Homo sapiens: one gene and its partner. The protein of the gene in region 2 interacts with the protein of the main gene of each other region in a biochemical or structural test. Each region holds a gene or a part of one and is shown on either strand. Other genes may lie near its edges.

Evidence for each region. The genes of interacting proteins can lie anywhere in the genome.
Region 1: of the proteins of GAD1 (region 2) and PRKCE, one has a biochemical effect on the other in vitro, tested with the Homo sapiens proteins (one study listed by BioGRID).

The regions. Positions count from the first base shown.
Region 1 is NC_000002.12:46,144,667-46,151,700, reverse strand, and holds part of PRKCE (protein kinase C epsilon type), read right to left. Parts: intron 6,609-7,034; coding exon 6,470-6,608; intron 661-6,469; coding exon 472-660; intron 1-471.
Region 2 is NC_000002.12:170,826,858-170,833,891, reverse strand, and holds part of GAD1 (glutamate decarboxylase 1), read right to left. Parts: intron 4,418-7,034; coding exon 4,259-4,417; intron 2,943-4,258; coding exon 2,700-2,942; intron 1-2,699.

The DNA of each region.
Region 1 (7,034 bases), about 120 Mb from region 2:
TGCTGTCGTGGACACAGGTGGGCGGTGCCCACCCTCCCTCCCCTCCTCTCTGTTCTCCATCACAGGTCCCTGATGAAGACAGGCCACAGGTAAGGAAGGTATGGAAGTGGCAGAGGTGATGTCAGCACAGTTGAGTTGCTTCTGTTCCCTCTGAAATGCTGGAGGACACAGATGTACACAGTGCCTCATCTCAGGAAGCACAGACATGCGCTCCTCTTCCCACCAGAAGAGCAAGTCATCTCAGGCCCCATTCTCTTGGCAGCAGTCCTCTGCACTGTGCCTGAACTCCCAGTGGCAACTGCCCTTAATCCTTCCCATTCCGTGGTGATGAGCAGAGGTGGGAGGGAGAAAGCTGGACAGAGAAAGGGAGAAGGGAGTGTGTGTGTGTGTGTGTGTGTGTGTGTGTGTGTGTGTGTGTGTAGGGGGAGGAGCCCAGGAGAGCACAGCCATGGGTGAGGGGCAGTGACTCACAGCTTTCAAGATGCTGACAGCCTCCTTGCTGAGCCAGACTGGGTACAGCACGTCGTCATGGAGGATGGACTCAAATAGGTCGTCCTCATTGTCGGCCTCAAAGGGAGGCTGTCCAGCCATCATCTCGTACATCAGCACCCCCAGGGCCCACCAGTCCACGGAGGGGCCATACTCCAACTCCTGCAGGATCTGTTCAGGAAACCAGCAATGTCAGGCACCATCAAAGGCTCCCACCCCAGTGACACCCGTGCTACGAACGCCCATGGGAAGGACTTCAATTCCAACTTGCTCCTCCCTACAGTTGAGTCCTAGTCCTAGAAGTTCTAAATCAGCAAATTCAGTGACAGTTGAGTTTGGAGGCACTATGCTGGGGGCCAGCTATCATCTTTCCAAAGTCAACATCGACAGTCTGTCTTCCAGTGGGAACAAATTCCTATTTCTTTGAGCACCAGATAAAGTTCCTGACTGGCATGAGGGCCACATTTTAAAAAACTGCATATTTTGACACTAAAATCAGGGTCAGGGGAGCACGATGCATACTGAGAGAACAAGCTGTAAGTGACTCAGAGTGCAGCGAGGTCAGGTCTCCCATCTCACACAGTCCAGGGCACAGCTCACTGCCTGAGTGGAAAGGTGAGCAGAGGTCTTCTTTAAATGGTGCAACACTCAATTTACCTGAGCCCTGTGCTCCTGGAGAGGAAACTGCAATGAATAAGTCTCCCCCACCCTGTAATGGTCTCCCTATAAAGGACCACTATACTCTTGCATATTCTAAGAAAAAACCCATCTCTATTGTTCATCATGATTCCCATAAGATCCACTGAAGAATCCCCCACTTTGCCTGCCTCTACAAAACCGTAGGCCCCCTTCCTTTGGGGCCACCTTCACTAATGAACCCCCTATTGCAATAGCCAGAATCGAACCATCTCCTTGATTGTCTGGTGCATTTTGTCTTTGACAATGGTCACTTGTCTTATCTATGCTGTCTCTCTTTTTCCTCTAGCCAAATATGTAGAGTCAAATTCACTTAGATTAAATGCATGTATGACATGATGCTACTGAATACAAGACATCTTTTCTGGCTGGGCGCAATGGCTCACACCTGTAATCCTAGCACTTTGGGAGGCTGAGGTGGGAGGATCACTTGAGTCCAGGACTTCGAGACCAGCCTGGGCAACATGGTAAGACCCTGTCTCTTAAAAAAAATTAGCTGGGCATGGTGGTACGTGTCTGTAGTCTCACCTTCTCAGAAGGCTGAGGTGGAAAAATCACTTGAGCCCGGGAGTTTGAGGCTGTAGTGAGTCATAATCATGCGACTGCACTTCAACCTGGGTAACAGAGTGAGACCCTATCTCAAAAAAAAAAAAAAGGATCTTTTCTGATTGGCTATTCTATTTGATCTGCTCTCCATACACATATGTCATAAATACATGATACACACACACGCACATATAAATATGTAGCATGTCAATGACATATATATATAAATACATATATATAAATACATATATATAAAAATACATATATATATATATGGAGATGACATCCAATAGAAAAGACTAGAATTTAATATCACCTTTCAGCTGTATAGAGCTTTGTATTTTACAGTATGCCTTTAAAATATAACATATATAAATAAAATAAATATGTAGCAGATCAATGATGTGTTTGGCTCAGAGGAAAAATAAATGCTGAGCTGTCCACTCTACAAGGAAGAGATCATGAGGTGACATTCCCATTCCACAATTATTTTCTCTTCTTATTAGAGTGGGATTAGGCATGGCTCTGCCCAGAAACAGGAGGGTGGATGAGATGACCTATCCAGGTCCATAATTCTATAAAGAATTTTAAAAAGGGAAGGAGAAACAAGGTTGGAGTGCATATCCTGCAAGGGGGAACACTTTGAGGACCCTGAAAAAAAAAGGCAAAGTTCATGCCTAGTCATTCCAGCCCATGGGACACCTTGGGCAGATAATATCTCAGGCTGGGGACAAGGCTCCAATTTAGTTCTCAGATTTCATGGTGGCCAGGGAAGAGGAGGCTGAATTCAAGTATCTGGACTTTCTGTGGTCTGCTCAAAATACCCTTCTAGAGGTTACAAATTGCTTAGGATGAACTAGAAAGATTTGGATAGAAGAAGCATTTAGAAACAGTTAAAACACTCACAGTTTAGAATCTTCTGAATTTGGAATGAAAAGGAATTTGAGAAAATGCAGCCAACTCTACATTACTTGGGGCTGGTAATCTGTTTAGCTAATACCTTTGGTCTAAGCCCAGTGGTTAGTGTTCCTTGAGCTGTAAGGTCAAAGCTATGGGCTCCACTGTCCTGAGGAGCCAGTGATTCTGCTATGCTCCAAAGCCAATGCCAACTCCTCCCTCAACCTCAAAAGACACAGCGCCCAACTTAAGACCCCTGCCTGTTCCTACGAGTTGCAGGCACTTTCTCACTTTCCACATACCACTACGTCGTTAGTTATTTTTTCATGGCCAGCGGTCTCCCCAGTGCAACTATAAGGTACCAGAGGGTAGGAGCTGTAACATGCTACTGAGCCCAGTGCTGTGGCCAGCCTGTTCTATCATCCAGGAGACAGTCAACATCTTGTGACTGGCTAGCATGCATGGCCACTGTGTGTATCTACTGGGCATGCTCCCTTCTCTTCTAGCCTCAGGGCACACTGGGTGCTACAGTGGCTGCCCTCCAGCTTCTCGGAAGGAGGCAGCTGGGTTCTGTGCCTTCAGGGGGTGGGGAGAAGGTGGCTTGTGTGTGCTGAGACTGGATGGTGCTGTGGAAACCACAGAGCCGCCCTGCCACCCCACTCCAGGCCCCTTCCACAGCCTTCTCATTTTGGGTGGCATCTTTTGTAAGATTCCTTTTAGGCTTGGCTCTAATTATCTGCTTCCTAATTAACTGTCGGCAGTGGATCTGGGCAGAAGGGCAAGGCTTCCATGTCACGGGAAGTCACCTGGAGCCAACCCCTCAAGTGCGTCAGAGCTCGGGAGAAGGGAGAAGGGAGAAGGCATTGGCCCTGATGATGCTATTACCAAAGGCTGGTGGCCACTTCCTGGGAAGCAGGGGCTGGGAGTGGGAAAGCAGAGGGGGTGCCATGGGGCATATCATGTGGCAGGAAGATAAGCCTTGGGGCAGACCTCATGCCTCCAAAGCTGTCTCTGGTTTTGAGGTTAGCTCAGCACCTTACCACCTCTCCCATTTGAATGGAGGCTTCTGCTTTCTCAAGCATTTCCATGCTCTAATCTCATTAGATTCTCAAAGCAGCTTGATGAGGTAGGTAGGGAAGGAGTTATGGCTCCCATGTGAAAGATGAGAAACCTGAGACTCAAAAACATTTTGTGACTTCATCAAGTCATCAAATGCTCATGTGTACATTTGTGGTCAAATCTGGACTCAAGACTCAATTCTCAGGATTGCGTTTCCTATCCCATCACACAACCCAACAATGATGATAACCATGAAGCCACCATTTAGCCAGCACTCCCTGTGGGCTGGGCACTGGGCTAATGCTTTAGAGGCATAATCTCATTTAATCTTCCCAGTAGCCCTCGATGAAGGCAGCAATACCTTTATCAGCTGTAATTTGCCTACAGCAAGACCAGGGATTGTCATTGCCAGTGCAGAGATGTTTCTGCACGGTGGGCACGAAGGCCAGAGCAGGAAGGAAGAGTGTCTGTGCTTCATTGTGAACAGAGATCAGAGTTGTTCATTGTGAGTCTCACCAATGGACTGCTTTTCATGAAAGCTGAGTGGCTATTTTGTTCATTATAAAGTGAATGTTCTGTCTTGGGTTGGGTCCTTAACTATAACATGGGCTGTCAACTGTTAGGCTCTGGCATCAACTTACAGAGGAACTGGAACTGAGTATTCTGACAATGAAGAATGAATGATGGCATCAACTTAGAGAGGAACTGGAACTAAGTATTCTGACAATGAAGAATGAACGAAGAACACGAGAAAAGCAGTTCCCTGTCGAAAGCTCTTGCTTTCATTTGTTGCTCCTTGAAGGCTGAATTCCTAGTGTTCTTGCTAAGGAAATACATTTGCAGAAAGACTGAAATCCCTACTCTTTAGATCTCTTAGAAGATAAAGGTTCTAAAGGGAAACTACCTATTACTCATCACCTTCACTTCGAGATGTTCCTCAGGCCTCCCCTGTCTTGTGTGGTCTGTGAAGCCTCCTGACCATCAGTCCCTCACTCCCTGCCTTCTGATCTGCACAGCTGTGGCCTTCCTTCTTCCTGGGATGGATCTGACTAGGACTCTCCTCCACTGAAACCCTGAGTGGGTCCACAGATCCTACAGGATCAAAGCCACATTCACTGGGTCTTTATCCCAATCTCATTCATTACTATGAGCACCAGGAAACCCTATGATCTAGCTACACTTTTTAACTGTCCTGGAAAAGACCAAGATGTTTTTGTCCCTTGGCCTTTGCTCATGTTGGAATGTCATAAGTTGTCATTTTTTAACAAACCTTTCTAAGATCCTGATTTGTGTGCCGGATCCTGGCAGTACCCAGATTAGAAACACAGACCCTGCCCTCAAAGGATCCAGGGCCCAGGGACACTGAACCTCCTTTCCTGTCCTGCCCCCGTTCCAATCCTGTTGTTTTCAGGAATACCCTCCCCACCCCTTCCGTCAAAGGAAATCCTCATTCTTTACAACTCAATTCATCCACCAGGTGCTCCAAGAAGCCTTTCCTGATCCCTGAGGATACCATCTTCTTTTATGTGCCTATTTATTCTGCTTAATTAGTTGTTTACTTATCTATCACTCCCTTTAGACCAAAAGCTTCTTTAGAATAGGGACAAGTGTCTCAGTCAGTTCTTTATCTCCACATTGCTTTGTGCCTAGCACGTGCTCAAACAATGCCCACTGAAAGAAATGAGCTCTGAATGTGCTAATACCTATCCGCCATGGGCGATGTTTAGTGGGGATTGGTACTTCTTTCCTATCTTACATGTCTCAGAACCATGAAGATCATTTTGATTGTCTATGACAGGCCATGTCTTAAATCTGAATCACATCACACTAGTTATCTCTCAGTTTGGGCAGGAATAAGGCAAACAAACACTTCATGCTGAGCAAAACATCCCAAACAACTTTCAGGAAAGGCAACCTATTGGAGTGGTTCACAGTGAACATCTCTGATATCTGTATATAATGAGGCACAGTCACTCTCCTCTTCCTGCTCCATCCTGTGTACTCACAGCATAGAACTGCCACTATGCAGGAAATAGCAAACAGTTCCTAGTTTTACTGTTAGCAAATTGTAGCTGATAAAGTGAAGTGCTCCCATGATCAATGATGCTCCTTTATTCTGATTTTATTTTTTACTTTTTTTTTTATTGAGACAGGGTCTTGCTCTGTCACCCAGGCTGGAGTGCAATGGTGCAATTATGGCTCACTATAGCCTCAACCTTCTGGGCTCAATTGATCCTTTCACCTCAGCCTCCCAAGTAGCTGGGACTACAGGTTTGCACCACTATGCCTGGCTAATTTTTGTATTTTTTATATAGACAGGGTTTCACCATGTTGCCCCGGCTGGTCTTGAACTCCTGGGCTCAAGCGATCTACCTGCCTTGGCCTCCCAAAGTGCTGGGATTACAGATGTGAGTCACTGTGCCCACCCTGTTCTGATTTTAAAGACATGAAAACAATAATAAAAGTCAACACGTTTTTCTTGGTCCTAGATTTATTGGTGGTTCTGGACTAGGATGGGAAAGAGATGTTCAGTGTGAACTTGCCCGGGTTTGGGAAATAGCCTGTTACTCTCATTTCACTCATCATCTCCCCAACACTAGGACTTCTTGACAGACATCAATCAGCAAACTTTTTTCCTTTCCTTTTCTCCCTCCTTCCTAGAATCCATCCTGGATTTCCAGAGCCTTCCCCCAGCACCACTAGATGACCCCAGTGCATGGGTTTGGACCCCTGCCTCGGTCCTGGCACCAGGAGGAGGTGAACCTTTGCACACAGGTCTTACCTCAGGAGCTATGTAGTCAGGAGTCCCACAGAACGTGGTGGTCGTCACACCATTCAGAATCCCTTCCTTGCACATCCCGAAGTCAGCCAGCTTGCAGTGACCTTCTGCATCCAGAAGGATGTTGTCCAGTTTCAAATCCCTGCAAGATAGGCCAGGACCATAATGTCAATACGTCACTCACCCCAATATAGTCTTCCTGAGTTGGAGGTATGTGCCTATCTTAGGGAAATCTCCAGCAAAAAAGTCCTGAAAGAAGCTTGTGTTTCTTGAAACCCATCTCAGTCCAGGGGCTCTCTCTCATGTTAGTCAGCCCCTAACGGCACCTCCACTTTCTTCAGCAAGAGGGAGGAACTTCTGTAACCCCAGGAATATATCAAGACTGCTGTGGTTTAATAGAGCTAAGTCAGTAGGTATATATAGAAGCCCTGCTATGCACCCACATTCATATTAATGAGATCCTGCTATGAAAGAAAGAAGCATCTACCCCTGTCCCTCATGAACTAACCATGGGGATCAGCTGGGGTTCCCAGCATGACACATAGGGACATCAACGAAACGGTTAAAA
Region 2 (7,034 bases):
AGTAGCTGGGATCACAGGTGCACACTACCACGCTCAGCTAATTTTTGTATTTTTGGTAGAGATGGGGTTTTGCCCAGGTTAGTCTTGAACTCCTGAGCTCGCGTGATCCACCTGCCAGCCTGCCAACGTGATGGGATCACGAGTGTGAGCCACCAGGCCAGGCCCGTCAGTGCTTTCTCTGACCACAAGATGCTTTGGTTTTGTAGATAATATTAGTTGATATTATGACAAAATCATGTATTTTTATTTGAGGGACAACGCCATTCTGGGCTTTCATAATAAAATGATGTAGTTCTCATCTCTCTGAGAAAGCGCATGTAGAGCAAACTGGCAAAGTTCAAAATATCACACCAAAGCAAGTCAAGCTAAACATACATGGGGAATTCTGACTCTTTTTAAAATGCAGCCGAATAACACTATTTGTTTTCCATTAGGAATATATTAGCCATCTGACCAAGATGAGAAGTAACTAAATGTAAATTGATAGAGTGCTTTTCTTTAAAAATCAAACAACATAAATTTTGTACATATAACTGAGTCTTGTGTATCCATCAGTCATTTAATGAAGCTGCACTTATTCCAGTGGTGTTGGCAGACCTCAGCAGCTCTCTGGGATTCCTCATTTTAAAAAGCATCTTTGGCCAGCATCATTATTTCATTATAACACTTTGTTTTTGACATCCAATAGTCTTACTCAGCTCTATCACCACCAGCCTCCTAGTCTCAGTCTTAAATCTATCTTCAAATGACGAGGAAGAATGAGAGGGAAAATAAAGAAGGAGAGACAAAGAAGAAGAAAGAACACAGGATTGCCAGTTGTGGCCTTGGGGCTTCCCCTGTGGTGGCAACTAAGCTAGGGACTGTCAATTATTCTAGATCTGTCTGCCTGAGAGCTCAGGAAAGCCAGACTGTAGTGTGGAGAGAGTTATAGGGAGAAGAAACCACTGTGTCACTCCTGGGCTTAGTCCACAGTCTGAGCTGTTTCTAAGCATCTCAGACAGAGGCCCCAAAGTCCTTGAACTGGAGGCAATTGGAAAGCAACTGCTTTGATGAGGATTGCTGATTAGAGAGAGCTCCTGGAACAAGAAAAGGAGGCAAGAGGACATCCTCAAGGACTCCCACTGGAAATAGAATTTGGTGACTCAGAGTGTCCTAAGTTCCAGAAGTTGCAGTAGAATGAGAAGGCATGTGTGTATGTGTGTGTGTGTGTGTGTGTGTGTGTGTGTGCGCGCGCGCGCGCATGTGTGCCTGTGTCTTTTTGGCCTGTGTGTGCATGTGTCTTTTTGGCCTAGCTGGTAAAAGGTGTCATGGGTTGAATTGTGTTCCTCAAAAAGATATGTTCAAGTCCTAATCCCTGGTTCCTGTGAATGTGACCTTATTTGGAAATCGGGTCTTTGCGGATGTAATCATGTTAAGATGAGGTCATGCTGGATTGGGGTGGGCCTTAATCCAACGACTGGCATTCTTATAAGGAGAGAGAAATTTGGACACACACACAGGATGAAGGCCATGTGAAGTGAAGGCAGAGGTTGGAGCGATGCATCTACAAGCCAACAAATGCCAAGGAATATCCACAACACCTGGAAGCTGGTAAAGACAAGGGTGGATCCTCTCCAAGAGCCATCAGAGAGAGCATAGCCAGCACCTTGATTTTAAACTCCTAGCCTCCAGAATTGTGAGAGAACAAATTTCTATTGTTTTGAGCCATCCAATTTGTGGTCATTTATAATGGCATTCCTAGGAAACTAATACAGAAAGGGAGAGGAAATAGCCCAATTCTCCCCAGTGTCAGGGACAGGCAAGGGCAGGATTTATCAGAATGAAATAGACCTGAAAATGGAGGCAAGAAAAGAAGCAGAGGATGGGTCATTCTGCTCTCTTTAGGTTGTGAATAGCCTAAATCCAAGAATGAAAATTCTTTTTTTTGAGATAGGGTCCCAATCTATTGCCCAGGCTGGAGTGCAGTGGCACGATCTTGGCTCACTGCAGCCTCTGCCTCTTGGCCTCAGCCTCCTGAGTAGCTGGGACTACAGGTGCACGCCACCATGCCCAGCTCATTTTCATATATATATAAATATTATATAATTTATATTTATATATAATATATAATATAAATATTATATATAAATATTTATATATTATTTTTATATTTATTATTTATAATTTATTATTTTTAAATTTTATTATTTATAATTATTATTTATTTATTATATTAAATATTTATATATAAATATTTATATATAAAAATAGGTATATACACACACACACACACACACACACACACACACACACACACATATGTAGAGACAAGGTTTCGCCATGTTGCCCAGGCTGGTCTCGAACTCCTGAGCTCAAGTGTTCTGCCCACCTTGGCCTCCCAAAATGCTGGAATTATAGGCATGAGCCATTGTGCTTGGCCAGAATGAAAACTCTTTATACAGAACTTGACCTAGCACCAAGCATTTATATCTTTTTTATCTACTTTTACCATGATATATGCTGATGAACTTTTGCCTGGGTCGGGTCCCTCCACCAACTGTTACTGCCCAAGCTTGTTCTTGTGGTCACTGGGTACTTTGCCGCCTTATCTCACCAGGGCTGTGTTTTTCTTCCAACACAAGTTTGATATCCTCACAACTGGCAAGGGTGAGATGGAGGGCAAAGTTGCCACTACCTGTCTACCCAACTCTCCTCCTTACCTGTGCGAACCCCATACTTCAAGGTGTCTCTGCAGTCAACCAGGATCTGCTCCAGGGACTCGGGGTGGTCAGAGAGCTCCAAGTTGAAGCCCTCCATGCCTTCCAGCAACTGGTGTGGGTGATGAAAGTCCAGCACCTTGGTGGAGCGATCAAATGTCTTGCGGACATAGTTGAGGAGTATGTCCACCACTTCCAGGAGGAATTGCACGGTTTGCTCCTCACCGTTCTTAGCCGGAAGCAGATCTGAATTGGGGAGAGCAATGAATGGTTTTCACCTGACTCATATCTAGATTTCTTCAGCCCAGAGACCCCTAATATTAACCATGCTATCTGTATAGGCCTGATTTCATTCTGGGATATGTATGTGCACTGAGAATCGGATATACCACATCTCCAGAAAAATGCACATACACAGAAGTTTTGCACATGCTTCCTGGGGGTTCACAGCCTTTCTGACAGGCTGCTCAGACATGGAATGAAGTGCTCTGAGACGCCGTGAACAACCTGCGACTGCGGTTGTCATCTGCAGGTTGAATGGGCACCTGTGAGGAGTGTGATGGAGGGGGCATCTGTCGTGCTCCCCTGGGACCAGGTGTGTCCCTGTCTATCTGGTTTGGTGTTGTGATGTGCTTGGTCTGTTGGCATCAGAGGGTAAGGCCTCTGTGGGTAGAGGCTGGGGTTCCCCCTGAGGAGGGTGGTCCTTGGCGGTGTCCTTCGACAGGAAACTGGAGCTGGAAGATGGGGCTCAAGAAGGTGGGACAGGGAACCCCTGCCTCTTTCTTGACCCCACCCTTTTGGGCCTGGACTTTGAGATATCCAGAGGTGACTTTGGGTGACAGGCTCTGCAGTAGTCAGGCTAGAGGTTAGGCAGGGAAAAAAGCTGTAGGGGCCCAATTCTGTAGCTCACAGGCAGGCTGTGCAGTTGTGCACGATACTCTCTGTGACTTCCTGGGTTAGCTCCAGGGTTTTAGTGACATATTGTTTAATACTCTGGTCTGCCTTCTGTGGCCCTGTGGGAAGTTCACAGAAGGGGATGGAAGCGGATCTACCTATGAGCTGTTTGGGAGAGACTGGTAAAGCACCTCCTGAGATGAGTGTTGTGGGGCAGCAGGGGTTAGTAAAACATCTCTGAAAGGAAAACAAGTTCCAGGACACTCGTTGGTTATGAGGCTCAGCATGCAACTTCCCATAGTGTGATTTTGTGTGTATGTGTGTGGCCAATCTTCCAGGATAAACGTTATTAAGGAAATCATTAGATTTTCTTATATGCAAGGTTCCTTTGACTCTGAGAGTCTATGAATCCATATTTGTTCCCTCGAGTGTCTTTAGAGTTGACTTTTATTGACTGCCTTCATCCAGTTTCCAAAATGATGGAGACCTGGCCAGCAGGGAGGGAGGGAGTCAATTATATTCCCCCAAAGTCACAAAAGCAGTTTCATGTGGGTTCAGAGAGAATAATGACATTTCTTGATAAAAGAAGTAAAATTGCAGGAAAAAGTCAAGAAACTCAAATAAGAAATCTACTGGCTAGCATGGGGCGGGAGTGGGGCAGGGGCTACCTCTAGCAAACAGATTAGAGAAGTCAGTCTCTGTGCGCCGGAAGCGGGCATCCCGGTCGCTGTTTTCACAGGAAAGCAGGTTCTTGGAGGATTGCCTCTCCTTGAAGGCACTCACAAGGCGACTCTTCTCTTCCAGGCTGTTGGTCCTTTGCAAGAAGCCTATGGCACAAGAAGCTGGTCAGAGAGAGTGCTGCAAACTGCCCAGCCCCTGAGGGTCAGCTGCAGAGTGAATCAACTCTCCAAGCAGGGCTCTTGTTTCTCCTGAGAAAAGAAGTGAGTGTCTGTGTTTTAAATACAGTGGCTCTGGCACTGCTCGCCTTCAGGCAGGGAGGGGGGCAGTGCCAAATGTCATCAGTGGCAGAGGCCCAGTCATGCAAGAGAGAAAAACAGTAAGTGAAGCCCGTTCTCCTCTCTGAATGTGACAGTGAACTCACAATTAAGTAAGTTGGACAGCTTCCACTCCAGTGACCAGCCCCAGGATAGGGCTTTAAAGGAGGAGACACAATCAGAGAAGATGCTGCCAGCACTGTTTATGGGCTGTATAAGCAGAAGGAGGAGGGGAGAGAACAGCAGAGGTAGGAGGAGAGGTGAGGACAGCTGAGGGAGGAGGGTGAGGACAGCAGAGGGAGGAGGAGAGGTGAGGACAGCTGAGGGAGGAAGATGAGGATAGCAGAGGGAGGAGAGGTGAGGACAGCAGAGAGATGAGGAGGGGTGAGGACAGCAGAGGAAGGAGAGTGAGGACCACAGAGGGAGGAGAGCAAGGACCGCAGAGGGAGGAAGGCGAGGACAGCAGAGGGAGGAGAGGTGAGGACGGCAGAGGGAAGAGGAGGGGTGAGGACAGCAGAGGGAGGAGGGTGAGGACAGCAGAGGTAGGAGGGCGAGGACAGCAGAGGGAGGAGGGTGAGGACAGCAGAGGGAGAAGGGTGTGGACAACAGAGGAGGAGGGTGAGGACAACAGGGGAGGAGGGTGAGGACAGCAGAGGGAGGAGGGTGAGGACAGCAGAGGGAGGAGGGCAAGGACAACAGAGGGAAGAGGAGGGGTGAGGACAGCAGAGGAGGACGGTGAGGACAGCAGAGGTAGGAGGGTGAGGACAGCAGAGGGAGGAGAGCAAGGACAGCAGAGGGAGGAGATCAAGGACAGCAGAGGGAGGAGATCAAGGACAGCAGAGGGAGGACAGCGAGGACCGCGGAGGGAAGAGGAGGGGTGAGGACAGCAGAGGGAGGAGGGTGGGGACAGCAGAGGGAGGAGGGTGAGGACAGCAGAGGGAAGGGGATGAGGACAGCAGAGGGAGGAAGATGACAGCAGAGGGAAGAGGGTGAGGACAGCAGAGGGAGGAGGGTGAGGACAGCAGAGGGAAGGGGAGGGGTGAGGACAGCAGAGAGAGGAGGGGTGAGGACAGCAGAAAGAGGAGGGGTGAGGATAGCAGAGAGAGGAGAGGTGAGGACAGCAGAGAGAGGAGGGCGAGGACAGCAGAGGGAGGAGGGTGAGGACAGCAGAGGGAGGAGGGTGAGGACAGCAGAGGGAGGACAGCAGAAGGAGGAGGGGTGAGGACAGCAGAGGGAGGACAGCAGAAGGAGGAGGGGTGAGGATGGCAGAAGGAGAAGTAGTGAGGTCCAACACAGAGGATTCGGGCAGACACTTTCCTCCAGCACCAGGTAATGCTCACAGGGTTGAACGTAAGTGGTATTTTTCTGAATGCAAACCTGAATGCAGCTTTTCTTGCACCACCCCCTCTCCTTGAATGAAGGTACTGTGAGACAAAAAAAAGCTTCAATCTTCTGTGTTGCCATTTAATTCTATAAGTACTTATTGAGCACCTGTTGTACAAAAACACTTTGCTAAGCATCTAGGATTGGGGACTGATAAAGCTAGTGGGACAGATCCCCTGCCCTCCAGGAGCCTACAAGCCTGGCAGATGGTGACAAATGCTGGAATAAAACTAGTCATCCAAGAACTCCACAGAGATGACAGGAGGGATCTGAGCCCAGGGCGGGATTCTCAGTGCCTCACCTCTGCCCCTCGGAGTGAGTGGAAAGTTCTCCTGCCCAAGGTGAGCAGGACAAACTCCGGCAGCAAACGGGGAAAGAGGGTTAAGCCAAAAGGGCAGGAGAACCTGCCAGCGTGGAGCACACTCCCTCCACATCTCCACCATCCCCTGTGGGGCTCCTGGCCCGCACGTCTGCTCTTTCCTTTGGCTTCTCCTCCTTCAATTCAGCCTCAGTCTTAGCCCAAAATGCAGCACACTGAAAAGAGGAAAAAGGTTCTAAGCTTCTTGGTGACCCCAAAGCTGTTTCTGTAAATACCAAGAAACTTGCGGAGTCACACGTGTCACAAGGCAGACTTGGAAGAAAGTCCCAAGAGGTGCAAAAAGGCAAGTTAATCTGGAGAATTCAGCTTTGCTTCCCAGGACTACAATTCAACTGTGATGGGTGGGAGAAGGGGGGATGCATGGGAGGGCTGCGGTGATTAGAATCCTCCCACACAAGGGAGCCAGGGGCTATTTCTGGAGGGAAGAAGGGGAAAGCAGAGCCACCAAGCTTTTTGTTGCTCCCAGCACCTTTTACATTTATCACTAAAGCCCAAAGGACATGAGAAGGGGGGAAATACACTATAATAGAGCTCCACACTTGGGTATAAAGATGGGATTGTATCCTTTTCCATATCTCTTTGCCTACTTCCTGAATTCCTCCTCCAAATCCTCAAAGTCCAGAGCCAGGAGCCAGCACTCATTTGCCAGAGGGATGCAGGATCAGATGGCACCTGAACTCTGAGACT